Linked DNA regions of Homo sapiens. The protein of the gene in region 1 purifies or fractionates together with the protein of each later gene. This does not show direct contact. Each region holds a gene or a part of one and is shown in the gene's direction. Other genes may lie near its edges.

What was found.
Region 2: the proteins of NOX1 (region 1) and PPP2R3B purify together in Homo sapiens (affinity purification with mass spectrometry; 2 studies listed by BioGRID and IntAct, with this or other methods). This does not show direct contact.

What each region holds. Positions count from the first base shown.
Region 1 is NC_000023.11:100,866,078-100,881,744, reverse strand, and holds the start of NOX1 (NADPH oxidase 1), read left to right. Parts: upstream 1-7,385; 5' UTR 7,386-7,605; coding exon 7,606-7,650; intron 7,651-10,930; coding exon 10,931-11,026; intron 11,027-15,667. UniProt on the Homo sapiens protein: NADPH oxidase that catalyzes the generation of superoxide from molecular oxygen utilizing NADPH as an electron donor.
Region 2 is NC_000023.11:383,908-399,641, reverse strand, and holds the start of PPP2R3B (serine/threonine-protein phosphatase 2A regulatory subunit B'' subunit beta), read left to right. Parts: upstream 1-12,734; 5' UTR 12,735-12,950; coding exon 12,951-13,274; intron 13,275-14,536; exon of another isoform or gene 14,537-14,600; intron 14,601-15,734. UniProt on the Homo sapiens protein: The B regulatory subunit might modulate substrate selectivity and catalytic activity, and might also direct the localization of the catalytic enzyme to a particular subcellular compartment.

The sequences.
Region 1 (15,667 bases):
AGACTGGCTCTGGAATCTATATCTAACCAGTACACCATACTGCTCTACCATCTCTTCCGTACCACCACTTTGCCTTCTGCCTATCAATATAGGCTACAATTTGAACACTTTCTCCATGAGGGATCAGTACGCTAGGTTACAGATGAAGAAACTGAGGCTGAGCAAAGTTAGACTTTTCCAAGGGAGCATTAATAGTGAGTGGGGAGCTGGAGGTCAAATCCAGCTCCATCATACCATATTGCCTTTACAAGGTGCTACTTTGGTGAGGTCTGGTTCTGCTCCAACATAGTAAAAAGAATTGATTTCAAATAATTCCACATGTATCAGTCCCTCTTATCATTATGGGATGTTTCATTTTTGGACGCTGTAATCAAGACCAAATTAATACCTTTAAAGGCTCTAAGATTTAAAAGAAACAAATGGGCCAGGCGCGGTGGCTTACGCCTGTAATCCCAGCACTTTGGGAGGCCGAGGCGGGTGGATCACGAGGTCAGGAGATCGACACCACAGTGAAACCCCGTCTCCACTAAAAATGCAAAAAAAATTAGCCGGGCGCGGTGGCGGGCGCCTGTAGTCCCAGCTACTGGGGAGGCTGAGGCAGCAGAATGGCGTGAACCCGGGAAGCGGAGCTTGCAGTGAGCCGAGATCGCGCCACTGCACTCCAGCCTGGGCAACAGAGCAAGACTCCGTCTTAAAAAAAATAAAATTAAAATAAGTAAATAAATAAATAAATAAACGAATGTCCTCCCAACACCATCCTCTATGGATTCAAATTAAACGTAATTATAAACAATAAAATAAGTAAAACAAACTATCATTTTCCCCATGACTACTTAAATTTTTGTTTTTGAAAACCAACCATCAAATTCTTTTATAAATTCTTAAAATAATTCTCAAAACAATTTTTTCTGATGTCCTAAGCACATGTTTAAACTGTTAAGTAATTCAACACTCTCTGTTATATATTAATTCCTGGAAGAGGTGTACAAGAGTTGTAACTGTAAAGGCAAATTTGGGACAAATGAGGACAGACACAAGTGATCAGGGAGAAGACACAACATGCAGGTCAGGTAAGGGCTTTGTGTTTACAGTTTGCAAGAATCCACCTACCATGGGTGGGATCAACCGTCTACAGGAAATCTTTCCAAAAGACTGCAGTCTATGGTAAAACTGTGAATAAGTTACTGATGACATTTAAGTACTCCCTAGAGATCTCCAGGAAGCAACCTCAAATTTAGTCAATGCCGCATAATCCATAAACCTGGGAAATGCAAACATTAAGACAGGTGAAGCAATACAGGGTGGAGGGGACTATTATAATGTCTAGAGCCAACAGAAGGAAAGCAATTCTGGGAGAATTTACAAAAAAGGGAGGTTGATGGTGAGAAGTTTTGTTTATTTATTTTAACTTATTTTTATTTTACTTTAAGTTCTGGGATACATGTGCTGAACGTGCAGGTTTGTTACATAGGTATACATGTGCCATGGTGGTTTGCTGCACCTATCAACCCATAATCTAGTTTTTAAGCCCTGCATGCATTAGGTATTTGTCCTCATGCTCTCCCTCCCCTTGCCTGCCACCCCCCAACAGGCCCCAGTGTGTGATGTTCCCCTCCCTGTGCCCATGTGTTCTCATTGTTCAACTCCCACTTATGAGTGAGAACATGCAGTGTTTGGTTTTCTGTTCCTGTGTTAGTTTGCTGAGGATGATGGTTTCCAGCTTCATCCATGTCCCTGCAAAGGACATGAACTCATTCTTTTTTATGACTGCATACTATTCCATGGTATATATGTGCCACATTTTCTTTATCCAGTCTATTATTAATGGGCATTTGGGTTGGTTCCAAGTCTTTGCTATTGTAAATAGTGCTGCAGTAAACACACACGTGCATGTGTCTTTATAGTAGAATGATTTCTAATCCTTTGGGTATATACCCAGTAATGGGATTGCTGGGTCAAATGGTATTTCTGGTTCTAGATCCTTGAGGAATCACCGCACTGTCTTTCACAATGGTTGAACTAATTTACACTCCCACCAACAGTGTAAAAGCATTCCTATTTCTCCACATCCTCGCCAGCATCTGTTGTTTCCAGACTTTTTAATGATCACCATTGTAACTGGCGTGAGATGGCATCTCATTGTGGTTTTGATTTGCATTTCTCTAATGACCAGTGATGATGAGCTTTTTTTCGTATGTTTGTTGGCCACATAAATGTCTTGATGGTGAGAAGTTTTTAGTGTGTCCGGCATTGCCCAAGAGAGGGAGGTTTCAGATTTGGGGCATGGATATTTTAGTTGAATTTGCTGGTGTAATCTTACCTTGAAAAGGGCCAAGTGAGTTTGCTGCTGCAGCTTAATAGTAATATTCCGTTAAGATCATCTGACTATCTTAGCTCAGATTCTGTGATCACCAGCTTATCAAAAGACTTCCTAGTACTCTGATATTGGGAATGGGGGTCCTACCTCACAGACATAAGGGTCCAATCAGCATGGCATATATAATTCTTTAGATAATACATAAATTGTCATCCAGATTATAGATCATTCTTTTATGAATCACAGGATCTCAATGTTGGAGTATATTTAAGGGACATTTAGTTAACCATCTACCTGGTGCTGATATTCCCCTTATAAAAAGCTGACAAGGGGTTGTCCATTTTTCCTTGAGAGTCTCAAGTAATAGGAAACTCATTACCTCTTTACTTCTCTGAATACCCGTGTTGGAAAATTCTGCTTTATATTGAAAAAAAATTGTGTTACTTTATTTATTTTTATTTTTATTTTTTGACACAGAATCTTATTCTTTCGCCCAGTCTGGAGTGCAGTGGCGTGACCTTGGCTCACCACAACCCTCGCCTCCTGGATTCAAGCGATTCAAGTGCCTCAGCCTCCCGAGTAGCTGGGACTACAGGCATGCACCACCATGCCAGGCTAATTTTTGTATTTTTGGTAGAGATGGGGGTTTGCCATGTTGGCCAGCCAGGCTTGTCTCAAACTCCTGACCCCAGGTGATCTGCCCGCCTCAGCCTCCCAAAGTGCTGGGATTATAGGCGTGAGCCACCATGCCCAACCTAAAGTGTGTTACTTTAGAGCCTCTATTCCTTGGTTGACTCCTTGGGTCACATACAAAACAATCTAAATCTTCTTAAAAAAAATGTAGATAAACTCATGTCCCCGATAAACCTCTTTCCAGGCCAAATTCCCTACACTCTTTAAATCCTCCTAATATAGGATGCTTTCAACTCATTACATCATCTTGGTCACCCTTCCATGGACAGGCTTTAGTTTCTCTTTTAATGTGTGGTCTTGGGCACGGGCAAGTGTTTTTGTAAAATTTACAAATGTAAAATATTTTCATTGCTAGTGATTGACTGTCTCTTACCACTCCAACTTCCCTCTGTCACACTTCCCCTCAGGTCAAGTGATGCTGGAGTGGCCATGAGCATTTCTGGAATACAGATAAGAGGTTGTTGTGTTGGTGGTATATTTAGTTTGGATTTAGGAGAATATATATTATGTGGTTCACTGACACTTCTATATCTAGTTAACTGATTGATAGCTGCCTTAGTGTAGAAATGGCTTCCAGGAAAACTCCTACCACCCACTGTGCCAATTTCACCTGGCATTATGATACTAAATTGCAGGTGTGTTCAGCAGCTAATGAAAATGTTGTTTTTATGGGTTTTGTGATGTTGAAGAGATTTTTCAGCTTTTTACAATAAATATAAAATGTGCTGTGCATTGCGCTATACTCCTTATAATGGGAACATTTCATGGCATATAAATTATACCTCAATAAATCTGTTAATTGTGCTGTGCTTTCTTTTCTGTTTTAAATAAATATTTGCTTTTGTGCCTAAAGTAAAGTAAAATAAAAATATGTAGCAGTATATCTACAAAACCTATACAAAACATTCTACTTAAGGGTGAAATGGAAGAATCCCCTTTGAGATTGGGAATTAGGCAAGGGGATCACTACTTCTACCTTTGTGCAGCATTGTACTAGAAGTTCTAGTGAGTGCAGTAAGCGAAGAAAAAGAAATAAAAGTTATAAGAATTAGAAAAAAGAAGGCTGGGCACGGTGGCTCACGCCTGTAATCCCAGCATTTTGGGAGGCCGAGGCAGGCGTATCACCTGAGGTCAGGTGTTTCAGACCTACCTGGCCAACATGGTAAAACCCAGTCTCTACTAAAAATAGAAAAATTAGCCGAGCATGGTGGTGGGCGCCTGTAGTCCCAGCTACTCGGGAGGCTGAGGCAGGAGAATCGCTTGAACCCGGGAGGCAGACGTTGCAGTAAGCCATTGCACTCCAGCCTGGGCAACAAGAGGGAAACTCCGTCTCAAAAAAAAAAAAAAGAATTAGAAAAAAGAAATAAAACTGTGTTTAGAGCGAAAAATGTGACTGTGTTTATAGACAATGTAAGACAAAATACAGAAATATTATTACAATTAATAAGTGAGTTTAGCAATGTTGCTGGGCATAAAAATCAATATGTAAAAACAAATTGTATCTTTAACAGCCATCATTAAAAATTAAAATTAAAATATATAATTTACAACCTCATGAAAACATATAAAGTTCTTAGAAGTGGATATAACAGGCTGGGCACGGTGGCTCATGCCTGTAATCCCAGCACTTTGGGAGGCCGAGGCAGGCGGATCACGAGGTGAGGAGGTCGAGACCATCCTGGCTAGCACAGTGAAACCCCGTCTCTACTAAAAAATAGAAAAAATTAGCCAGGCGTGGTGGCGGGCGCCTGTGGTCCCAGCTACTCGGGAGGCTGAGGCAGGAGAATGGCGTGAACCCGGGAGGTGGAGCTTGCAGTGAGCCGAGATTGCACCACTGCACTCCAGCCTGGGCGACAGAGCGAGACTCCGTCTCAAAGAAAAAAAAAAAAGAAGAAGAAGTGAATATAACAAAGGAGACGCAAGAATTTGATTATAAAATTTACATGAAAATGAAAAAGGCCAAGAATAAAAACAAAACACAGAACCCCCCCTCCCCCCAAAACAAAGAAACAAACAAACAAAAAGTCAAGAATAGCCAAAGCACTCTTGAAGAACAAGGTGGGGAAACTTGTCTTATCAGATGTCAAGACTTAGTAATTAAGGCAGTGGCATGGAAGAACTGAATGGAGAGCTCCGGAAGAAACTCGTGTATATAGACATTTCATATATAATAGAACTGACATTTTAGATCAGCGAAGAAAGTATATTTTTGAAAGTACTTTTCAAAAATGGCTGAGCGCAGTGGCTCATGCCTGTAATCCCAGCACTTTGAGAGGCCCACGTGGGTGGATCACATGAGGCCAGGAGGTCAAGACCAGACTGGCCAGCACAGCAAAACCCTGTCTCTACTAAAAATACAAAAATTAGCCAGGCATGATGGCGCTTGCCTGTAATCCCAGCTACTCGGGTGGCTAAGGCATGAGAATCACTTGAACCCAGGAGGTGAAGGTTGCAGTGAAGGGAGATCACACCACTGTACTCCAACCTGGGTGACAGAGTGAGACCCTGTCTCAAAAAAATAAAAATAAAAATAAAAAGTACTTTTCAAAAATGATGCTGGGGCAATTCGTTTTCCATATTTAAAAGTAGTAAATTGGATACCATACATGAAAATCAGCTCCAGGTGGATTCAAAACATAAATGTAAAATGCAAAAATATAAAATTTCTAGAAGAAAATATAAAAGAGTATCTTGATATCTGGGTAGTGATGGATTTCTAAAACAAGACATAAAATGCATAAATCATAAAAGAAATGACTGGTAATCAGAGTGCATTAAAATTAAGAACTTCCATTTATCAGAAAACACTATTAAGAGACTGAAAAGACAAGCCATAAACATAAGCAATAAAAGATTAGTATAAGATTATAAACAGAACCCTAAGAATCTAAAAGCAAAAGAAAAACCAATAGAAAGATAGACCAAAAAGTAGAATAGGCTCAGAATAGGCTCTTTTAAAAAGAGAAAACTCAAATGGCCAGCAGTTGAATTAAAAGATGCTCAAACTCATTAGTAATCAGGGAAATGCAAATTAAAATCATAATACGATAGTTTTCCACACTTACTTGAATTATAAAAACAAAAAAGTCTGGAAAATACCAAGGGTTGGTAAGCATGTAGAGGAAGTAGAACTCTCATTCATAACTCTCTGTAGTATACATTTAGGTGGTCACTTCGGAACGGGTTTGGAATTACACAGCAAAGTAGAATATGTGCAAATCTCAGGACCCTGGAATTTTACTCCTGGGTATATACCTTAGAGAAACTGTAGCATATGTGTGACATTTGATCAACATTGTTCCATCATCATATCCATCAGTAGTAGGATGAATGAATACATTAATGTATATTCATTCATGCAATGGCATATTAGATAGCAGTGTAAGTGAACCGCAATTACATGTACATGTATGAATCTCAAAAACCCAATGTTGAAAGAAGCAAACCACAGAAGCATACATACACACTGCCAGGTTTCATTTACAAAAAGTTCAAAAACAGGAAAAACTAAACAATATATTGCTTAGGGATGCAATTATAGTTAGTAAAAATATAAAGAAAAATAACAGAATGATTACCCCAAATTTCAGGATAGTGATTACATCCGGTGGGGTAGAGGAGGGGAAGAAGATAGATGTGATCAGGGAGGGAAATACAAAGAGCTTTAAGATACTGGAGAAAAATAGTCTATTTTCTTTAATCTGAGTAGTGAACACATAGATACTTATTCCTTAAAATTATTCTTTAAGTTACATATGTATGTTTTATATACTCTTCTGTGTATATTTCACCATTTTAGAAAAGGGAAAAAAAATCAGTGCCCAGAGCTGAACACACAACTCTAGTAAATCTATCATACTAGAAGACAATCATCTCCATTCTTTTGAGTGCTCTGCCTCTGTTTATTTTGAACCAAAGTGCACTTTTATACTTGTTAAATTTTCTCTTGCTCTATTTGGCCCTTCTTTTCACTTGTCCTTCCAGCCAGTCAAGTTCTCCCCAAAGCCATCATCATATATGTCAACCACAGATCATCCTCCAGGGGAACTGGTATGCTAAAGTTTCTGAGCTAGCCAGGCTGAAATCCAAATGGCAGCCGGCAGATGTGGCAACAGTTTGAAAAGTGCACTTTGAAACAGCTTCCTTACCACACACGCTTCCCTCCCTACTTCTCCTGAAGTAATCTGTTTACAGACCCAGACTAATAATCTTTTTTATGAGAAACTTTAGCAAATCTTTTATCTAGGAAGGCAATGCTTCACATTAGGTCATGTTGATAAGATGATGAGAGAGAATATTTTCATCCAAGAATGTTGCTATTTCCTGAAGCAGTAAAATCCCCACAGGTAAAACCCTTGTGGTTCTCATAGATAGGGCTGGTCTATCTAAGCTGATAGCACAGTTCTGTCCAGAGAAGGAAGGCAGAATAAACTTATTCATTCCCAGGAACTCTTGGGGTAGGTGTGTGTTTTTCACATCTTAAAGGCTCACAGACCCTGCGCTGGACAAATGTTCCATTCCTGAAGGACCTCTCCAGAATCCGGATTGCTGAATCTTCCCTGTTGCCTAGAAGGGCTCCAAACCACCTCTTGACAATGGGAAACTGGGTGGTTAACCACTGGTTTTCAGTTTTGTTTCTGGTAAGTGATGTTTGACTTCCTATTAATTAGGAAGGATTAAGGAGAAATCATGTTTTTTAATATTTGTAAAGCAATTTGAAAGAGAAAGATGATTCCATGCCGATTATTGGGCTCATCAAGACCAGTTAGTTAAAAAATACAACTGTGGGTCAGATGAGAGGACAGAGGCAAATAACATGCAATTGTTCATGTTGTCAAATCACAAGTATTTGGAATTTCAATCTGTTTTCATTTTCTGTCATCTCCCTTTCTCTTCCATCTCACTTCTAACTACTACCATGAGTGCTGATTTCTCTCTATCTTTCCTATACTGGTCCCATCAAGATTTCAAAAAGTCACTGAATGTTTGAGATGAAAGTGATCTTAGAGATCATCTGGCCCAGTACTGACCACTAGAAATATAGCAAACCACATAATGTAATTCCTAAATTTTCTAATACCTACACCGAAAAGGTAAAAATAAACAGGTGAAGTTAATATTTAACAATATAATTCATTTAACCCAACATATCAACAAATCCTTTCAGTATGTATTCAATATTGAAAATATTAAGAAGCTAATTTACATATTTTTATTTTTACTGAGTCTTTCAAATCTGATGTGTATATATACCCACAGCACATCTCAGTGAGGACTAGCCACATTTCAAGTGCTCAGCAGCCCCATGTGGGTAGTGGCTGTGGCATTGCATAGTGCAGATGTAAACCAACTTATTGATTGTACAAAGGAAAATAAGACCTAGATGTCACACAATGAATTGACTGAATTGGCATCACTCGAACCCAGCTCCCCAATGACGTTCAGGCCAGAACCCCTTTATCACCCTTTGTATGCACAATCCCTTTCTCCTAACACTCTAACACCTCTCTCCACTCTCATTCTTCCATTTCTGAGCCACAGTTGAGCCTGGGGCTCCCTGTGTCCTTTCTCACTTTCCTAGATCTTCATTCATTACTCTTTCTCTTTTCTCCTGTTTTGCTTTTGGGTCCCACAGGCAAAACAGAAGAGAGAAGGTGTGATGCTTCTTTTTATTCCTGTCTACCCCCCCGCCCCCCGACCAGGTGCTCCAGGGAAAAATATGTGGAGTTTCCCTGGAGGGTTGTTTGTTTTACATTTAACAAAAGTGCTTATTTTGTCAGGTTATCCCATGACATATTTTAAATGCTCAATGCCTTATATTGAGTTCCTTTTGCACTATAATGGAAAGAACACTAGTTTAGGAGAAAGGGAACCTGGCAAGTACTTTGAATTCTGCTACTAACTGGGTGATCTCGATCAAATTATTTATCCTCTCTAGACTTCAGGTCCTGTGGGTGTGTAGGTGGGGGGAATTGGGCAGGGGAGGGGAGCAGGGGATTAATAAAGTGACTAGATTAGATACAAATATAAGGGTGTTTCTAGCTCTAAAATCCACATTTACCTGCATTTTTTCCCCCTCTCTTATTTTTTGCTGGGAGAGTTTACCAGCTATGATGGTGACTCACATTTAACTCTCTAGCTTTGAATTTTCATCCCCCACCAAACCAGCTGGCAAGCTTAGACTTCTCATTATCTCTGACATATACTCCTATGCACTGATTTTTAAATAAAAAATAAATTACTTAAAAATAGTTTTATTCCTCCTTCCTCCCAGGTCTTGTAGTTTACCTTCTTTGACGTTCATAGTGGAGGAAATGACAGCTAAGATGGGGAATGGAATGCCTTACTCCTAGATATCACTGTATTTCATCATTTGCCTTGCCTACAATTGATGATGGGCTGACACAGTTATTTGCCCCTGTGTCTCTTTGCGATCCAGAAATATTTCTGCTCCCTCTAAATAAACTTCTCTCCTCTGTCTTCCAAATTCTTGAGGTGTCTGTGACTGTTGACTTTCTTTTCTTTCAAAGACGTTTCTCTGGAAGACACTCAGCTCTGGAAAAGGGTAACTGAGCAAAGGAGGCAGGAAGAAATTGATTGGTAAAGCAGGTTCGGTGGTGACACAACTCTGTAGCTAGCACTTATTGATCTCTTACTAAGCCCCAAGCATTGCATTAATCACTTTACACGCATTATCTGACGTAAGCCTCATAGCATTACTATAAAGTAGGTCCTGTTATTATCCTCATTTTGCAGGTGAAGAAATTGAGGTTTAGAAAATTTAAATCATATGTCTGTCTGAGATTATAGAGCTATTAATTGGTGATGCTACAACTTGACTCCAATATCACACTTTAAATCACTATATTATAGTACTAAAGGTGTGTGAGTGGTCTAGATCTAGGGAGTCTGAATAGGCCATGTCCTAGGCTAAAGGCCCTTTGCCTGTTGTGCTGAGATGGTTCTGACTCATACTGTGGGGCGAGGGATATATACTAGCGCCCTGGAGACCTGTCGAATTACAGACTAGCACCTCCACACTTGGGCTAGAGACCAGTTGGTTGGTCCTCAAGGCAATGGGCAGTGAGTTCCAAATTTCACCTTTAGCCAGTGCAGAGACAGAACTTGGAACAGGCAAAAGCAGTCTTAAGAGCTCAAAAAAGTCCAAAGGAAAAATAGATTAATTTGAAAAAAGACTCACAATCTGAAAACAGAAAAATGTGTGTCAGGGTGTAATTAAAAAGGCAGGCCCATCTGGAATGGTTTAGTTCTTTTCAGTTAGGTATTGTTATAGGTGCTAAATTTGTTCTTTGTTTCTTCAGATATCCATTTATTCACTTATTGCCATCTTTTAGGTGCAACAGTTTGAATGCTCTAGTCCAAGAAATGGCAAATGTTTCTGTAAAAATCTAGATAGTACATATTTTAGGCTTTGCAAGCCATATGGTCTCTGTCCCAACTACTCTACTCCGTCATTGTATCACAAAAACAGCCATAAACAATACAAAAATGAGTAGCAGTGGCTAAGTTCCAATACCACTTTATTTATGGTCACTGAAATTTGAATTTCATATAACTTTCACATGCCACAAAATATTCTTCTTTCGATTTTCTCAACCATTAGCAAATTTGAAAATATAAAATATAAAAAACAATTCTGAGCTTGCAGGCTGTGGCAAAACAGGTAATGGGCCATGGGCCTCAGTTTGCTGACCCTGCTCTAGTCTAATGCATGTCTCAAAGTGCTAACTCACTCTGAAAGCCAGTTAGATACTAGCAGGATTGCACTCATTTAAAATGAAAACAGGTAAACACAAAATAGCCAAAACGGCGACACTATTGCTATCCCTATCCCTTATTTACTCCTTCCCATACTCAAATTTCACTTTATTCTTTGCATGTTTTTTTTTCTTTCTCTAGGTTGTTTGGTTAGGGCTGAATGTTTTCCTGTTTGTGGATGCCTTCCTGAAATATGAGAAGGCCGACAAATACTACTACACAAGAAAAATCCTTGGGGTGAGTATCACGGTTGTCACGGATAGAATCTCTATTGTTTTCCTTATCTCTGATTCCAGCTTCTTTGTGACCCAATGCCCTGATATTCTCTAGGGCTAGGGTTGCCAGAAAAAGTACAGAATGCCCAACTGACTTTGAGTTTCAGATAAATGACAAATTATTTTTTTATGTAAGTATGCTCCAAATACTGTATGAAACACAGGTATACTAAAATATTTATTTTAAAAAGTCTGAAGTTAAAATTTAGCTTAGCATCCTGTATTTTTATTAAATAAATCTGATAACCCCATCTAGGGCACACTACCCAGACCCAATAAAGGAAACATGCAATAAAGAAAACTATTAGGCAGTTGTTTTCAAACTGGTTTCCAGAAACTCAGGTGTTCCTACAGGGTATGAGGGGAAGGCTAACTGGGCAGTGCTCCTGCTCCTGCTCCTGCCCCTATTTCTTTTTTTTTTTTTTTTACAAGGAGGAACTGGTACCATTCTTCTGAAACTATTTCAATCAATAGAAAAAGAGGGAATCCTCCCTAACTCATTTTATGAGGCCAGCATCATTCTGATACCAAAGCCTGGCAGAGACACAACCAAAAAAGAGAATTTTAGACCAATATCCTTGATGAACATTGATGCAAAAATCCTCAATAAAATACTGGCAAACCGAATCCAGCAGCACATCAAAAAGCTTATCCACCATGATCAAGTGGGCTTCATCCCTGGGATGCAAGGCTGGTTCAATATACACAAATCAATAAATGTAATCCAGCATATAAACAGAGCCAAAGACAAAAACCACATGATTATCTCAATAGATGCAGAAAAGGCCTTTGACAAAATTCAACAACCTTTCATGCTAAAAACTCTCAATAAATTAGGTATTGATGGGACATATTTCAAAATAATAAGAGCTATCTATGACAAACCCACAGCCAATATCATACTGAATGGGCAAAAACTGGAAGCATTCCCTTTGAAAACTGGCACAAGACAGGGATGCCCTCTCTCACCGCTCCTATTCAACATAGTGTTGGAAGTTCTGGCCAGGGCAATTAGGCAGGAGAAGGAAATAAAGGGTATTCAATTAGGAAAAGAGGAAGTCAAATTGTCCCTGTTTGCAGATGACATGATTGTATATCTAGAAAACCCCATCGTCTCAGCCCAAAATCTCCTTAAGCTAATAAGCAACTTCAGCAAAGTCTCAGGATACAAAATCAATGTACAGAAATCACAAGCATTCTTATACACCAACAACAGACAAACAGAGAGCCAAATCATGAGTGAACTCCCATTCACAATTGCTTCAAAGAGAATAAAATACCTAGGAATCCAACTTACAAGGGATGTGAAGGACCTCTTCAAGGAGAACTACAAACCGCTGCTCAAGGAAATAAAAGAGGATACAAACAAATGGAAGAACATTCCATACTCATGGATAGGAAGAATCAATATCGTGAAAATGGCCATACTGCCCAAGGTAATTTACAGATTCAATGCCATCCCCATCAAGCTACCAATGCCTTTCTTCACAGAATTGGAAAAAACTACTTCAAAGTTCATATGGAACCAAAAAAGAGCCCGCATCGCCAAGTCAATCCTAAGCCAAAAGAACAAAGCTGGAGGCATCACACTACCTCACTTCAAACTATACTACAAGGCTACAGTAACCAAAACAGCATGGTACTGGTACCAAAACAGAGATATATATCAATGGAACAGAACAGAGCCCTCAGAAATAATGCCGCATATCTACAACTATCTGATCTTTGACAAACCTGAGAAAAACAAGCAATGGGGAAAGGATTCCCTATTTAATAAATGGTGCTGGGAAAACTGGCTAGCCATATGTAGAAAGCTGCAACTGGATCCCTTCCTTACACCTTATACAAAAATCAATTCAAGATGGATTAATGCTCCTGCCCCTATTTCAACCAAAGCAGACTATATCTATCTATGAACACCTGCTTACAATTTTAAGAAAGAGTTTGGTTTTTTTTTAAAAAAAAGGAAAGTAAAAAAGAAAAAACAAACACAACTTGAAAACACTGCTGTCATGGAAACATACCTCTCTATCAAATAGGAGGGATACTTAGGGGAGTCTCATGGGTGCTACAGAATTCAAGGCCTGCAGAAAGGAGGGCTCAGGTCAAGGTTACAGAACCTGAGAAGCTTGGGGAAGTGGCAGATCAAAAACAGAAGAGGGAGGGAGGGAGTGGGTAGGGCACAGGGGTGTGGAGGTGACCAGGAGGAAGCACGGAGTTGAGGATGGTTCTCTCACAGGCTGATGAACCCGGATGCTGCCTGGTTAGAAGAGCATATTTGACTGCTACCTCTAGTCTATTATGCAATAACAGATAGAGGATTTTAAATCACTTTCATCTTGACAGTGTCATTTTTTCAGTAGCTTTTGGTATCTTCCCAATGTACATGTTTAAAGACAGCTTGTCCTTTTAAAAAATGCTTTTTTCTCTCTCCATAATCAAAGAATCCATGTTGAGATCACAACTAATTTGAACGTTCTGTTCATGGTTTATTTCACCCTGCTGTTTTCCATTTTAAATGTTCATCCTTGATCCTTCTTTAGAAACTATAACTCCAAAGGAGGTATTAATTTGCTTTAAAAATAGCTTTTTACTAAGAGAATGATGCAATAAATGTGACTAGTTATTAACAGCTTGATTACTACATGACCAAAATGTCAGCAGCACAAAAATAAATTATGCTGATGTCCCATGGACATTTTTTTTTCAAAATTATTTAAAAATTGTTTACATATGTAGGGGGTATAAGTGCAGGTCTCTTTCTTTCCTTCTTTCTTTTTTCTCTTTCTTCCTTTCTTTATTCTTCCTTCCTTTTCTTTCTCTTTCTTCTCTCTCTCTTTCTTTCCTTCCTTCCTTCCTTCTTTCCTTCTCTCTTTCTCTCTCTCTTTCTTCTTTTCTTTTCCTTCCTTCCTTCCTTCTTTCTTTCTTTGTTTTCATTCTTTTTATTTTGAGACAGGGTCTTTCTCTGTTACCCAGGCTGGCATGCAGTGGCATGATCATGGTTCACTGCAGCCTCGACTCTCCCAGGCTTCAGCTATCTTCCCACCTCAGCCTCCTGATTAGCTGGGACCACAGGTGTGCGCCACCAAGCCTGGCTAATTAATATGCCATAATTTATTTAAACATTCCACAGTCATTAAAACATTTACCATCACTGCATAACTGCATAGAGCTCTCAGCCTTTTAAGAGAATAACAATTCATTGCATTGATATGCCATAATTTATTTAAACATTCCACAGGTTATTTCTTAAATTCATGCTCACCTTGGGAAAATACAGGGAACAATTTGATTCACTATGAAGTAGAGCAGATAAGCAGCAGAGGAAGAAGTTTAAATCCATAATTTAAAAACATTTTTTTGCCAGGCGCTGTGGCTCACGCCTGTAATCCCAGCACTTTGGGAGGCCGAGGCGGGCGGATCACGAGGTCAGGAGATCGAGACCACGGTGAAACCCCATCTCTACTAAAAATACAAAAAATTAGCCAGGCGTGGTGGCGAGCGCCTGTAGTCCCAGCTACTCGGGAGACTGAGGCAGAAGAATGGCGTGAACCCAGAAGGCGGAGCTTGCAGTGAGCCGAGATCGCGCCACTGCACTCCAGCCTGGGCGACAGAGCCAGACTCTGTCTCAAAAATAAATACATAAATAAATAAATACTTTTTTTTTGTAGACATGAGGTCTCCGTGTTGCTCAGGCTAGTCTCAAAACTCCTGGGCTCAAGTAATATTCCCACCTCGGCCTCCCAAAGGCCGGGTATTACAGGTGTGAGCGACCATGCCCAGTCACAAGTGTAGGTTTCTTACATGCATATATTGCATAGTGATGAAGTCTGGGTTTTTAGTTACCTATCACCTGAATAGTGAACATTGTACCCAGTGGGTCATTTTTCAACCCTCACTCCCCTCCCACCCTCCCACATTTTGTAGTCTCCAATATCCATTATTCCACTCTGTAGGACATTTCATTTTTTAAATCCCTATTTTAAAACCTTAATTATCAATAATGCTGCTTCCAATGAGATCAAAGCACATATTAGTTTGGTGCAAAAATTATTGCTATTAAAACTGTTTGCAAAAACCGCAATTACTTTTGCACCAAGCGAATAGAAGTGTATAAGTAAAATGTGAAAATCTCCCTCCCATCCTACTCCCCAGAGATACACACACACACACACACACACACACACACACAGGGACACACACACTGACATAAGCTCACAAATGTATCAGACACGCAGGTTTTGTTTTTGAGGTGGGTACTATCGTTTATTCACTTTTTCATTTTCATATAGTAAAATTTGCTGTTTTTTGGTATACAGTTCTATGAGTTTGGGTAAACACATATAATAAGACACACAGCTTTTTGTTTTAACCAAAAAAGGGATCACTTTGTAGATATTGGCTGGAAATTGCTTATGTTAATATATCTCAGATATCTTTCTTTCTTTTTTTTTTTTTTGAGATGGAGTCTCACTCTGTCGCCCAGCCTGGAGTGCAGTGGCGCAATCTCTGCTCACTGCAACCTCCACCTCCTGGGATCAAGCGATTTTCCTGCCTCAGTCTCCCAAGTAGCAGGGGTTACATGTGCGAACTTTCATGGCTG
Region 2 (15,734 bases), about 100 Mb from region 1:
ACTTTGGGTGGCTGAGGCGAGCGGATCACGAGGTCAGGAGTTCGAGACCAGCCTGGCCAACATGGAGAAACCCCATCTCCACTAAAAATACAAAATTAGCCAGGCACGGTGGCTCACGCCTGTTATCTCAGCACTTTGGGTGGCTGAGGCGAGCGGATCACGAGGTCAGGAGTTCGAGACCAGCCTGGCCAACATGGAGAAACCCCATCTCCACTAAAAATACAAAATTAGCCGGGCGTGGTGGCTCACGCCTGTCATCCCAGCTACTTGGGAGACTGAGGCAGGAGAATTGCTTGAACCCGGGAGGTGGAGGTTGCAGTGAGCTGAGATCGTGCCACTGCACTCCAGCCTGGGCAACAAGAGTGTAACTCTGTCTCAAAAAAATTTAAAAAAAAAATGCAAAAAAAGAAATCAAACTATACATAATATTGCATACAGACAGTCCCCAGCTTCCAATGGTGCAATTCAGGATTTTTTAACTTTATGCTGGAGAGAAAGCAGTATGCATTCAACAGAAAGTGTACTTGAAGGCCGGACGTGATGGCTCACGCCTGTAATCCCAGCACTTTGGGAGGCCAAGGTGGGCCGATCACTTGAGGTCAGGAGTTTGAGACCAGCCTGGCCAACACGGTGAAACCCCGTCTCTACTAAAAATACAAAAAATTAGCCGGGTGTGGTGGCGGGCGCCTGTAGTCCCAGCTACTCGGGAGGCTGAGGCAGGAGAATGGTGTGAACCCGGGAGGCGGAGCTTGCAGTGAGCCGAGATCGCACCACTGCACTCCAGCCTGGGCGACAGAGCGAGACTCCGTCTCAAAAAATAAATAAATAAATAAAATAAAATAACAAAACAAAATAAAGTAGGTCAGAAAGGCAACTGGAGTCCATAGCCCACGTTCTGTAACCCAGTTCTGACTCTGCTGTGCGCCCCGTGGTTAGAAAATGGCAAGTCAACAGAAACGTTCTCAAACCAGAGACCAAGGCACATCCCGAGGCATCCGTCTCACTAACAACTGCGGGGACGTGGGATCTGGGGGACATCCTGTCTCTGCCACTCAGAGCGCTGCTGCGTGCAAACAGGTACAAATGCCAGCAACTCTTCGAGAGCTTCCCACGTCATCCACGGACGGGCACGACCTCTTCCTCACCACCAACACCCACCCTATCCCATCTACCATAGTGTGCTTGCCACAGCGAAGATGATTCCATAAAACACCACTTGTGCTCTGAAACCACAGGGACCCACGTCTGCCTGGACCCGGAAAAACGGTGCAGAATATAGCAGGTTTCTGGCCGGGCGCGTTGGCTTACGCCTGTCATCCCGGCATTTTGGGAGGCCGAGGCGGGTGGATCGCTTGAGGTCAGGAGGTCGAGACCAGCCTGGCCAACATTATAGGTGTGAGCCACCGCCCCCAGCCTGGGACCTTATTTGGAAATAGCGTAGAGATGCTGAAACCCCATCTCTACAAGGAATACAAAATATTAGCCGGGCGTGGTGGCGGGTGCCTGTAGTCCCAGCTACTCGGGAGGCTGAGGCAGGAGAATCGCTTGAACCCGGGAGGCGGAGGTTGCTGTGAGCAGAGATAACACCACTGCACTCCAGCCTGGGTGACAGAGCAAGACTCCATTTCAAAAAAAAAAAAAAAAAAAACAAAAGAAGAAAAGAAAAAAAAAAGAGAGAGTTTTTGTCACGGAAACGCCTGACAGTGCCTTGAAGCTGGGGATTAAGAGTGAATTGCATAGTTGGGATTCTGCAGCCAGAAAGTCATCGCGGAGTTAACGCAGTGCCTGGCCGAGGCTTCCTGAAAGCTGCTGGTCCCTGACCTCTGGGGCACGAACAAGACATCTGAAAATAACTGGGGTTCCGTGCTGCCAAAACGGCACCGGACGTCAGCTGTTCTCCCCGGAGGCATTCCTTCCACACACGGGTTCCTTTGGAGGACAAAGGGAGCAGATGCTGCCGGCCGAGCCTACGGCCTCTTCAGTCCTGGAGGGTGTGGGGGGCAGGAGGAGAGGGCTGCGGTGTCTGGGGCAGCCTCGTCCGGCCACTTCTCAGCAAGACGTCCCTCTGTGCTGTTGAACAACCATGTCTGGACTTTTTTTTTTTTTTTGAGACGGAGTCTCGCTCTGTCGCCCAGGCTGGAGTGCAGTGGCACGATCTCGGCTCACTGCACGCTCCGTCTCCCGGGTTCACGCCATTCTCCTGCCTCGTCCTCCCGAGTAGCTGGGACTACAGGCGCCCGCCACCATGCCCGGCTATTTTTTTTTTTTTGTATTTTTAGTAGAGACGGGGTTTCACCATGTTGGCCAGGATGGTCTCAAACTCCTGACCTCGTGATCCGCCCGCCTCGGCCTCACAAAGTGTGGGATGACAGGCATGAGCCACTGCGCCCGGCCTATTTATTTTATTTTATGTGAGACAGGGTCTTGCTCTGTTGCCCAGGCTGGAATGCAATGGTGTGATCTCGGCTCACTGCAGCCTTGACCTCCTGGGCTCAAGTGATCCTCCCACCTCAGCCTCCCGAGTAGCTAGGACTACAGGTGCACACCACCATGCTGGGCTAATTTTTTTTGGGGGGGGGGTAGAGATGGCATCTCACTACGTTGCCCAGACTAGTTTCAAACTCCTGGGATCAAGTAATCCGCCTGCCTCAGCCTCCCGAGTAGCTGGGACTACAGCATGGGCCACCATGCCCAGCTAATTTTGCTTTTTGGTAGAGATGGGGTCTTGCTATGTTGCCCAAGCTCATCTCAAATTCCTAGGCTCCAGTGATCCTCTCACCTCAGCCTCCCAAAGTACTGGGATTACAGGCAGGAGCCATCCGGCCCGGCTTTTTTTTTTTTTTTTTTTTTTTCAGATGGCATCTCGCTCTGTTGCCCAGGCTGGAGTGCAGTGGTGCAATCTCGGCTCATTGCAACCTCCGCCTCCTGGGTTCAAGTGGTTCTCCTGCCTCAGCCTCCTGAGTAGCTGGGATTACAGGTGCCCACCACCCCACCCAGCTAATTTTGTATTTTTAGTAGAGACGGGGTTTCACCATGTTGGTCAGGCTGGTCACGAACTCCTGACCTTGTGATCCGCCTGCCTCAGCCTCCCAAAGCCCAGCCCTGATTTTTGAATACTCTCTGTACTTCCCAAGTTTTCTCCAATCAGCAACTACTCCTTTTACAAAGAGGAAAAAAACAGTTTTCTGTACTACAGTGCTGTAAATCACTACCCCTGGCTATCAGAAATACGTCCTTCTGGCCGGGCGCAGTGGCTCACGCCTGTAAATCCCAGCACTTTAGGAGGCCGAGGTGGGCGGCTCACGAGGTCAGGAGATCGAGACCATCCTGGCTAACACGGTGAAACCCCGTCTCTACTAAAAATACAAAAAAATTAGCCGGGCGTGGTGGCGGGCGCCTGTAGTCCCAGCTACTCAGGCGGCTGAGGCAGGAGAATGGCATGAACCCGGGAGGTGGAGCTTGCAGTGAGCCGAGATCGCGCCACTGCACTCCAGCCTGGGTGACAGAGCGAGACTCTGTCTCAAAAAAAGAAAAAAAAAAAGAAATACATCCTTCTGTCATTCAGAAAAATGTGCATTTCGGCCGGGCACGGTAACTCACGCCTGTAATCCCAGCACTGTGGGAGACTGAGGCAGGCGGATCACGAGGTCAGGAGATCGAGACCATCCTGGCTAACATGGTGAAACCCTGTCTCTATTAAAAATACAAAAAATTAGCCGGGCGTGGTGGCGGGTGCCTGTAGTCCCAGCTACTAGGGAGGCTGAGGCAGGAGAATGGCGTGAACCCGGGAGGCGGAGCTTGCAGTGAGCTGAGATCACGACACTGCATTCCAGCCTGGGCGACAGAGTGACAGTCTGTCTCAAAAAAAAAAAGAAAGAAAGAAAGAAAGAAATACGTCCTTCTGTCATTAAGAAAAATGTGCATTTCACCAACTACACTCTGAGTCAAATGTAGGTCTTACGCAGAAAAAAAAAAACAAAGCTTTTACCGAAATGGGTACCCAGGCTCCATTCTCAATTTGCTTAAAATTTATGCTGAGCGAAATAAAAGAAGGCGTCACATCTGACATGCTAAGACTTTTTGCCTCATTTCAGATTAGGAGGAAAATCCACCCCATAGCAAAAGTCCGATATCTATCGTTCTAGTTAAAGAATCACCTAGAGGCCAGCGCGGTGGCTCACGCCTGCAACATCCCAGCACTTTGGGAGACTGAGACGGGTGGATCACCTGAGGTCAGGAGTTCGAGACCAGCCCGGCCAACATGGTGAAACCCTGTCTCTACTAAAACTACAAAAATTAGCTGGGCATGCTGGTGGGTGACTGTAATCCCAGCTACTCGGGAGGCTGAGGCAGGAGAGTCACTTGAACCTGGGAGGCGGAGCTTGCAGTGAGCCGAGATTCTGCCACTATAGCACAGGCGAGATAGCGAGACTCCATCTCAAAAAAATAAATAAATAAAATAAAATAAAAGTGAACTGTTTCACAGTAGCTGGATTTCGTAACGGCCCAAAAGCAGAAACCACTCAAGTGTCCACCAGTGGATGGGTGGATTAGCACAATGTGGTCCATCCACATGGTGGAATAGTATGCAGCCATGAAAAGGAACGAGGCTGTGACACAGGCTGCAATGTGGATGAGCCTTGAGGATGTCACACTCCGTGAGAGAAGCCAGACACAAAAGGCCACATAGAGTAAGATTCCATTTCTAGGAAAGGTCCAGAACAGGCAAATCCATGGAGGCAGAAAGTGGATGGGTGGTTGCCAGGGGATGGGGAGGGGGACGAATGACTGTTAATGGGGACAGGGTTTACTTTTGGGGTGAAGAAAATGCTCCAGACCTTTTGTTGTTGTTGGTTTGTTTGTTTATTTTTGAGACCGGGTCTCGCTCTGTGGCCCAGCCTGGAGCGCAGTGGCGTGATCTCGGCTCACTGCAACCTCCGCCTCCCAGGCTCAAGTGATTCTCCTGCCTCAGCCTCCCAAGTATCTGGGATTACAGGCACCAGCCACCAAACCCAGCTAACTTCTGTATTTTTAGTAGAGATGGGGTTTCGTCATGTTGGCCAGGCTGGTTTTGAACTCCTGACCTCAGGTGATCCGCCCGCCTCGGCCTCCCAAAGTGCTGGGATGACAGGCGTGAACCACCATGCCCAGCGCAAGTGTTCCGGAACTAGACAGAGGTGGTGGTACGCCATTGTGGATGTTTTAAATGCCCCTGTTCACTTTAAAACGGTTCCTTTTATGTTATGTGGAATGTATCTCAATTACAAAATTAAAAACAGAGGCCTGGCACGGTCACTCATGGTGGTCATCTCCGCACTTTGGGAGGCCGAGACCAGTAGATTGCTTGAGCTCAGGAGTTTGAGACCAGCCTGGACAACATGTCAAAACCCCGTCTCTACAAAAAAAATTAGCCAGGTGTGGTGGCAGGTGCCTGTGGTCCCAGCTAATTGGGAGGCTGAGGTGGGAGGATCGCTTGAGCCTGGGAGGCGGAGGTTGCAGTGAGCTGAGATCGCACCACTGCACTCCAACCTGGTGACAGAGTGAGATCCTAGCTCAAAAAAAAAATTGGCCGGGCGCGGTGGCTCACGCCTGTCATCCCAGCACTTCGTGAGGCTGAGGCGGGCGGATCACAAGGCTAGGAGATCGAGACCATCCTGACTAACACGGTGAAATCCCACCTCTACTAAAAATACAAAAAATTAGCCGGGCGTGGTGGTGGGCACCTGTGGTCCCAGCTACTCGGGAGGCTGAGGCAGGAGAATGGCGTGAACCCGGGAGGTGGAGCTTGCAGTGAGCCGAGATTGTGCCACTGCAGTCCGGCCTGGGCAAAAGAGCAAGACTGTCTCAAAAAAAAAAAAAAAATTAAAAATATAAATCTTTCAAAACCCTAAACAACTGTCTACAGTGTGATGTTCTGGGTCGTGGATAAGAGGAAAGTACTTATTAAAAGGATTCAAGGCTGCGTGCGGTAGCTCACGCCTGTAATCCCAGCACTTTGGGAGGTCGAGGCAGGAGGATTGCTTGAGGCCAAGAGTTTGAGACCAGCCTGGGCAACATAGTCAGACCCCATCTCTAGAAAAAAATAAAAAAATTAGGCGGGCATGGCGGTGCATGCCTGCAGTCTCAGCTACTCGGGAGGCTGAGGGTGGAGGATCACTTGAGCCTAGGAGGTCAAGACAGCAGCTGTGATCGTACAACCGCACTCCAGCCTGGGTAACGGAGTGAGACCCTGTCTCGGAAGGAAGAGAGAAAGAGAGAGGAAGGAAGAGAGAAAGAGAGAGGAAGAAAGAGAGAAAGAGAGAGGAAGAAAGAGAGAGAAAAAGAAATCTCAGCTCCAAGTATTACCAAGAAAAATAAGAGATGACACATAGGAAAACCTGTTTCTAATGAGCTCAAGCACGGGCCAAGTTCAATCAGAGATATGCATGACATTTATTATTATCATGAACAACACCAAAATAGATGCAGTTAGGGGTGATACAAAATGCTGGCCAGGCGCGGTGACTCACATCTGTAATCCCAGCACTTTTCGGAGGCCGAGACGGGCAGATCTCCTGAGGTCGGGAGTTCGAGACCAGCCTGGCCAACGCGGCAAAACCCAGTCTCTACTAAAAATATAAAAGGTAGCCGGGCGTGGTGGCAGGTGCCTGTAATCCCAGCTACTTGGGAGGCTGAGGCAGGAGAATCGCTTGAACCCGGGAGGCGGCTCCAACCTGGGCGACAAGAGCAAAAACTACGTCTCAAAAAAAAAAAAATAGAGAGAAAAGAAAATGCCATCTGCGTGCTCTTTGCAAACATTTCCCCATCTGCGTGCTCTTTGCAAACATTTCCTCCCGAAAGTCTCCCGGAATGATAAAAGCAACCACACAGCCTGGCCACCTAGAATCTGGGTCCGCTTGTTCCAGGCTCAGAATCTTTTTCCTCTCAGCCAGTCTCATCTTCCGGGCTGTCAACAGCGTGTGCAGGGCCGCAGGATTTATAGGTAATGACATGCTTCTAATTCTCCATTACCTCCAAAGATTTCATCTTCCCCTTTTCTAAATCCTTCTTAGGAGATACTTGTCAGGTTCATCTGGCCCAGCAGCTTCTGACAAGGGGACCCCGCTCATCCCCGTCATCTCTGTGACTTCATGTAAATAGCGGCACGTGGCGGCCGCCTTTGGCCCTCGGCCCCGAATCCATTGCGGAGTCTCACTTCCATTAATTCTTAATTTGTGACCACGCTTCCTTTTCTGTTCTGTGTTTAAATGGAGATGTGATTAGTAAGGTAATAGGAGAAAGCCGGGGTCCTCACGATGCAACGTGCATTTCTGCGCCTTATAGAAAATTGGATAGGCGTCATTATTTCTTCCAGTAGCAGAGTGCATTCTGACATCTGATTGCTTGAACTGTGATATTTCCATACGCCATCCATCACCCCGGCCACGGCGGCACGCTGAATATTCAGATTAAATTGGAACTTTTTCCCTATGAATAAGGGATTTCATTCTATCCTATAAGATACACTGTCTCCGGGGAGAGGAAATTGAGTTGAAGGTTGCTGAAAATCGTATTATCCAAATACAGAGTTCTTTTCCTTATCATCAAAACCTGAAACACAGCCGTGGGGAACCGAGAGGTCAGGAGAGAATTCAATTAGAGAGGAAAATGGAAAAGGGAGCATTTTTCCACTTACGTTTTATTTTGCCAAGCAGGTGGCAGCGGGCGCCGCTCGGGACAAAAGGGGCGATGTGTGAAGGGTTTTTGGTTTCTGGAAGATGGATGAGGACACAGCCTCAAGGAGTTATGAAGAGGCAGGAAAACCTCTACAGCAAATGTTCCATCCTCTCCTTTGCCGGTTTTGGACGAGGTATCTGTGAGAGTTCCTGGCCTCTTACTGCCACAGTTACGGTGGTTTCTTTTTTTGGGAGGGAGTCTCGCTCTGTCACCCAGGCTGGAGTACAGCAGCGCGATCTCGGCTCACTGCAACCTCCGCCTCCACCGGGTTCAAGCGATTCTCCTGCCTCAGCCTCCCCAGTAGCTGGGATGACAGGTGCACGCCACCACATCTGGCTAATTTTTGGATTTTTAGTACAGATGGGGCTTCACCATATTGGCCAGGCTGGTCTCGAACTCCTGACCTTGTGATCCGCCCACCTCGGCCTCCCAAAGTGCTGGGATTATAGGAGTGAGCCACCACTCCCGGCCCACGGTTAGAGTCTAAACTGTGCACGCTGCCTGGAGTCCCCACCTCTCCTCACCTGAAATATGCACTCGGAAATGTGTTTCCAAAACCTGCAGAATGCAGACCCACACTACTTTCCTATTTATTTATTCATTTTGAGACAGAGTCTCGCTCTGTCGCCAGGCTGGAGTACAGGGGCATGATCTCTGTTCACTGCAAGCTCCGCCTCCCGGGTTCAAGTGATTCTCCTGCCTCAGCCTCCCGAGTTGCTAGGGTTACAGGTGCCCGCCACCACGCCCAGCTAATATTTGTATTTTTAGTAGAGACGGGGTTTCACCACGTTGGCCAGGCTGGTTTCGATCTCTTGACCTCGTGATCCACCCCTGTCGGCCTCCCAAAGTGCTGGGATGACACTGTGCTCGGCTGGGTTTTTTGTTTTTTTTTGTTTGTTTGTTTTGTTTGTTTGTTTTAAGTCATCGTGCGGAATGCAAGCGGCAGATATAAACTTGATCCCTCTTTGACCTCTCACTGCACGCACCTAGCTGGGAGCTTTGGGTCGGCGCAGGACCAGGGAGATCCTACTTGCCAGGTGCTTCCTCTGAGGCATCTCCAGGTCTGGAGCTTTAGTGTTCGATCAACCACCCAGGTCTGCGGGGCGAAGGCCGACTGAGATCCAGAGCATGTCATACAGTGGGTGAGTTTGCATTTCTGAGCAGCTGCAGGTGGGGCAGAGGCTGCAGAGGCTGTGGCCACACAGGAGACCCGGGCTCAGGTGGATGAAGGAAGGAGCTTCTCTCCCTCTACAACCGTTGTGGCTCCCTCCTTCCTCACCTCCCTGGGAAGCGCTGACCCAGCTCTTTGTTCCTGGACCTACATCCCACAGAGGAGCAGAGTCTTCCGGAATCTTCCTCGCTACTCTTCCCTCCCCATTCTCGCTTTTTATTTTATTTTTATTTTTATTTTTTCGAGAGGGAGTCTCGCTCTGCTGTCCAGGCTGGAGTGCAATGCTGTGATCTCGGCTCACTGCAACGTCTGTCTCCTGGGTTCAAGTGATTCTTCTGCCTCAGTCTCCCAAGTAGCTGGGATTACAGGCACCCGCCATCATGCCCAGCTAATTTTTCTATTTTTGTAAAGACGGGGTTTCACCATGTTGGCCAGGCTGGTCTCGAACTCCTGACCTCAGGTGATCTGCCTGCCTCAGCTTCCCAAAGTGCTGGGATGACAGGTGTGAGCCACCACGTCTGGCTAATTTTTGTATTTTTGTAGAGACGGGGTTTCAGCATGTTGGTCAGGCTGGTCTCGAACTCCTGACCTCAGGTGATCCTCCCACCTCAGCTTCCCAAAGTGCTGGGATAACAGGTGTGAGCCACGATATCTGGCTGCTTTTTAAAATTTAATGCTTTTAGGGACAGAGTCTTTCATTCCTGCCTCGGCTGGAGAGCGGTGGTGAGATCTCGGCTCACTGAAGCCTCAACCTCCCAGGCTCAAACGATCCTCCTACCTCAGCCTCCCGAGTAGCTGGGACCACAGGCACACGCCAGGATGCTCAGCTAATTTTTAAATATTCTCTAGAGATGGGGCTCGCCATGTTGCCAAGGCTGGTCTTGACCTCCTGGGCTTAAACAATCCTCCTGCCTCGGCCTCCCAAAGTGCTGGGATGACAGGTGTGAGCCACCATGCCTGGCTAATTTTTGTATTTTTGTAGAGACGGGGTTTCACCATGTTGGCCAGGCTGGTCTCGAACTCCTGACCTCAGGTGATCCACCACCTCGGCCTCCCAAAGTGCTGGGATGACAGGTGTGAGCCACCGTGCCTGGCTAATTTTTGTATTTTTGTAGAGACGGGGGTTTCACCATGTTGGCCAGGCTGGTCTTGAACCCCTGACCTCAGGTGATCCACCGTCTCGGCCTCCCAAAGTGCTGGGATGACAGGCATGAGCCACTGCAATCTCCCGGCCTGCCCTCACCTTTCTCTCCCCAGGACAATTCTGGTGGCCACCCACCACCCCTGCAAGACGGACAGACCCGAATGGGCAGGGCGTCCATCCGGCTGTGGAGCAGCTTGGATAATTGCAGCTGGCCACATCCCAGCAAACTCTGCAACACCTCAGGCCCTGCCAGCCTTGGGGGCCCGACAGCACCTCTTTGTTCTCCCAGAGCAAAGCCTGCACGGAGTGGGCCCCCGGGCCCCAGCGCAGACTGAAGGCGCATTCTGTTTCTGCCCTGAGTTGATTTCTGTCCTGTTGGCCCTGGGCCTCACTACACTGTGCCCCAGTAACCTGGCAGAGAAAGGCCTCTTGTGCAGGCATTCAAAGGAAACCCTTTCCCCTCAAAACTGCAGTGATGCTTCCAACAGTGACTCGCAGCTCATCGAAACACCCAGAATGAAAAGCACGTTTGTTCCTTGAAAAGACGTCTGTGTCCGATACATACTCAAACAGAGAACTGTATTAATATATTCACTTCCCTCCAGAAATCACAGCATCGCACACACACACAAACGGTTGCTTCCCAATTAGGAAAAATAACTTCACAGAATTCCTGCGTGATGGCGCTCTTCTGACCAAGTACACTCGGATTTTTATATCCAATCACGAAACACAAACTGAAATTCAAATCATTATGTACACAACACAAAACTATCGTTTATGAGTGATTTAAATCGGGTGCGGTGGCTCACGCCTGTAATCCCAACGCTTTGGGAGGCAGAGACAGAGGCAAAGGCAGGAAGATTGCTTGAGGCCAGGAGTGTGAGACCAGCAACACCTCGTCTCTATAAACAATAAAATTAAAAATGAGCCAGGCATGGTGGCGCATGCCTGTTGTCCCAGCTGCTTGGAAGGCTGAGGTGGGAGGATCGCTTGAGCCAGGAGATCAAGGCTGCACTCAGCTAAGATCGCAGCCTGGGTGACGGAGCAAAACCCTGTCTCATACGAACAAAAAGAGTTATTTAGGCCGGGCGTGGTAGCTCACGCCTGTAATCCCAGCACTTTGGGAGGCCGAGGCGGGTGGATCACTTGAGGTCAGGAGTTCGAGACCATCCTGGCTAATACGGTGAAACCCTGTCTCTACCAAAAATACAAAAATTAGCCAGGCGTGGTGGCGGGCGCCTGTAATCCCAGCTACTCGGGAGGCTGAGGCAGGAGGATCCCTTGAACCCGGGAGGCGGAGGTTACAGTGAGCTGAGATCTTGCCATCGCACTCCAGCCTGGGCGACAGAGCGAGACTCCAACTCAAAAAAAAAATAAAACTAAAAAAAGAGTTATTTTTTTTTTTTTTGAGACAAAGTCTGGCTCTGTCGCCCAGGCTGGAGTGCAATGGTGTGATCTCAGCTCACTGCAACCTCCACCTCCTGGGTTCAAGCAATTCTCCCGCCACAGCCTCCCGAGTAGCTGGGACTACAGGCACACGCTACTATGCCCGGCTAATTTTTCTATTTTTAGTAGAGATGGTGGGGGCGGTTTCACTATGCTGGCCAGGCTGGTCTCGAACTCCTGACTTCGTGATCTGCCCGCTTCAGCCTCCCAAAGTGCCGGGATTACAGACTTGAGCCACCGCGCCCGGCCAAGGGTTACTTATTGAGTCTGGCTCGATTTATGCAGCTCAGAAGTAGGAGAACCTGGCTCATAAAAGACCTTGAAATTACTCTCTAACAGGGTGCAACACCAGGTGAAACCCTATTTTGATAAAAAATGAATAAAAAGCGGGGCAAGATGTAAAGGAAACAGGTGCATGTGTGCCAGACAGATGATAATGCAGTGTTTTTATGGATACTGTTAAAAGCAGAAACAAAAACGACCATTGGGTAAAGTTATTTAACTAATGTCACCTCCCTGGACGTGGATGATTTTTGCAATTTTCAACGCACTTCACGCTCATCCCTGAACACCAACGTTTAAAGGGGTCCAACTCCTCCAACCTGTCTCTACTGTTTGATAAGCAAAGCTAAAGTAAACGGGGCCCTTTGGGTCCCAGGTAGCCCGCTGTTATTGAAAAGTTTGATCTTTTCCTCGCGCGCTCCCGTAGGACGCACGCTCGCTCCCGAGCTCGGCGGGCGCGCACCCCGCATGCTCGCTCGTTCCCGGTGCCTCCCACTGCGCAGGCGCACTCCCGTCCTCCAGCCCCACCCGCTCACACACCTCCCAGCCTCTGGCTTGCGCCCCGCGGGCAGCCATTGCGCACGCTCACCCGACCGGCCTCCCGAACTCCGCTCCTCCACCGCTATGCACGGCGCATGCTCCATGCGGAGGTTCCACCCTCTCCTCGCTCTGGCAGGCACGCATTGCGCATGCTCGCATTTCCGCAGCTCTAGGACTGCCACGCCGCCATGGGCCGCGCCTCTAAAAATCCTAAACGCAGAAAGAGCTCGGGCGGTACGGCCGCCACAGCCCCTCCCTCGTCCTCACCGCAGCCGCTCGGCCCCACCAAAGCCTCCTGCAAAAGCTCCGAGGGCCGCGGGGCGCGCGTGGCTAGCGGCGGCGTCGCCTCGTGATGACATCGTCGCGATGACGCGACGCAGTGACGTGAACGCGGGCGCCCTTGTTTGGGAGCGCGGCCGGCGCGCCCGTTTTGAAGCTGCCCTGAGCAGCGCGGGCCGGACCGCGCCCCCTCCTCGGTCCCCGCGCCCCGCGAGTCCGCGCAGTTCCCGAGGCGCGGGCCCTGTTCCCTGCGCCGCGCCCCCTCAGCGGGCCGTGCTCGCATCACCGAGGTCGGTCCGGGGCGGACCGAAGCCCCCGGGGCGGGGCGGGGCGCGGGCGTCCGGGGGCGCCGCGGGCCCAGCCCCCGCCATGCCGCCCGGCAAAGTGCTGCAGCCGGTCCTGAAGATGAAGGTGGACGAGCTGTTCCTGTACTGGCTCAGCGAGGCCAGCACGCAGCGGATGCTGCAGGACTGCCTGCGCCGGATCAAGGCGCCCGGGCGGGACCAGCCGACCCCGGGGGACGGGGAGCAGCCCGGGGCCTGGCCCACAGCCCCGCTCGCCGCCCCCCGGCCCAGCGGGCTCGAACCCCCGGGAACCCCCGGGCCGGGCCCTGCGCTGCCCCTGGGCGCCGCCTCCAGCCCCAGGAACGCGCCCCACGTTCGAGGCACCCGTAGATCCGCAGGGACGAGAGTAGTAAGTTACTCTTCCTTCTGCTAACAACTGCGCAGGTGGCTCTGGTCGCATAGTGGGCGTGTGGCTGCGCGATGGAGGCTGGTGGGCGAGCGTCAGACCCCAAAACGGTTTCATATTGAGTCTGTTCCCCGCCCCGACCCCCCCCACCACACACATACAGACAAGAAAGTCCCACGTACTGAACATTCCGTCATTGACAGTTGTTAACCTAAAAATCACACAATTTATAAAGGTAGAAAGGCTTCCTATTTTATTTTATTTTATTATTTTAATTTGTTTTAATTTTGAGACAGAGTTTTGCTCTGTTGCCCAGGCTGGAGTACGATGGCGCGATCTTGGCTCACTGCAACCTCTGCCTCCCAGGTTCAAGCGATTCTCCTGCCTCAGGCTCCCGAGGAGCTGGGACTTACAGGCACGTGCCACCACGCCTGGCTGATGTTGTATTTTTAGTAGAGACTGGGTTTCCCCCATGTGGGCCAGGCTGGTCTCGAACTCCTGACCTCAAGTGATCCTCCCGCCTTGGCCTCCCAAAGTGCTGGGATTTCAGACGTGAGTCACTGCGCCTGGTCCGTTTTTTATTTATTTTACAATTCTTTGGAGACAGGGTCTTGCTCTGTCTCCTAGGCTGGAGTGCAGTGGCGCAAACACAGTTGGACTTCCTGCCTCAGCCTCCCCAGTAGCTGGGATTACAGGCGTGCACCATCACGCCAGGCTAATTTTTGTTTATTTATTTATTTATTTATTTTTGCAGAGACGAGGTCTTGCTATGTTACCTAGAGTGCTCTGGAATTCCTGGGTCCAAGCAATCCTCCCGCTTCGGCCTCCCAAAATCCCACTGTATTTCTTAGAAGAAACGCCATTTATTTCATAGAAGGTGATTATACACCGCAGGTGAGAAGCGCAGCCTCTGGCTAATGTACCTGTAATCTCAGCTACCCGGGAGGCTGAGGCAGGAGAATCACTGGAACCCAGGAGGCAGAGGCTGCACTCCAGCCTGGGCACCAGAGCAAGACTCCATCTCAAAAAAAAAAAAAAAAAAAAAAAAAAGAAAACTAAAAACAAGCACTTGGAGGGAAGAAAAGATGAGACGGGAATTTATGCTGAGTGGGTTGGCCAAGTGTATATATTCAAGAAGTTATAGGAAGAGCTATGGATATTCACCAAGGGTGTCCTGACGCATGGGTATTGAACAAACATGCATGTTACCTACTCCCGAGTTCACCTTGGAGCGGAGACTTAACATTTAAATGCATTATGGTTAGGCCCCCTAGGTCAAAAGGTGAAGCAACTCTGCAGCCTCTGTCAACCGGCCAGAACCAGTCCGTGGTGAGTAGTTACCAGGATAAAGTGATTGCAATCAGTTTTTTTTTTTTTTTTTTTTTTTTGAGACAGATTCTCACTCTCACCCAGGCTGAGATGCAATGGTGCAATCTCAGCTCACTGCAACCTCCGCCTCCCGGGTTCAAGCGATTCTCCTCCCTCAGCCTCCCGAGTAGCTGTGATTACAGGCGCACACCACCACCCCCGGCTAATTTTTGTATTTTTAGTAGAGGCAGGCTTTCACCTTGTTGGCTAGACTGGTCTCAAACTCCTGACCTCAGGTGATCCACCCGCCTCAGCCTCTCAAAGTGCTGGGATGACAGGCGTGAGCCACCACACCTGGCCTGGAATCAGTCTTTTCCCAGTCAAAGCTGTAGTTACGGCTGGTGGAACAGAGGGGTCTGTTCATCAGGATCTGACAGGAAGCTGCAGGTGTTTTAATATTGTTTATATTGGTCAGGCATGGTGACTCACGCCTGTGATTCCAGCATTTGGGAGTTGGAGGCAGGCAGATCACTTGAGTTCAGGAGTTCGAGACCAGCCTGGGCAACATGGCGAAACCCCATCTCTGCTAAAAATACACAAATTAGCCAGGCGTGGTGGCGCACCTGAAGTCTCAGCTACTCAGGAGGCTGAGGCAGGAGAAATGCTTGAAGCTGGGAGTCGGAGATTACTGTGAGCTGAGATTGCACCACTGCTCACCAGCCTGAGCAACAGAGGAAGGCCCTGTCTCAAAAAAAAAAAAAAAGTATATATATATATATAGAGAGAGAGAGAGAGAGAGAGTCTTCTTGCGTGCGCGAGCTTGAGGCCAAGATAAGCAATAGAGAAAAAGAAAAACATCCTTTATTTACTTCTTGAATCTCAAAAACGAGTTTCTGCAGAGGTCTCTAGTGAATAACCTAAAAGGACATTTAGCTGCTGGAGAAAAAGAAATGCTTTGGCAGTTGGAACTGTAGTTTATTCTTTAAGTGTAGGCGGTGTGTGACTTAACCCTCACCTCAGGTGGCCCTTGGTCTTGTTTGCCACAGAGTCTGTTCTGTCAGTCTTACGATGTTGATTTTAACCTTTTTGCTGGTTGGTTGTGTTTAAACTGCCAAAGCAGGAGGGGTATAATAAGGTGTGTCCAAACTCCCATCC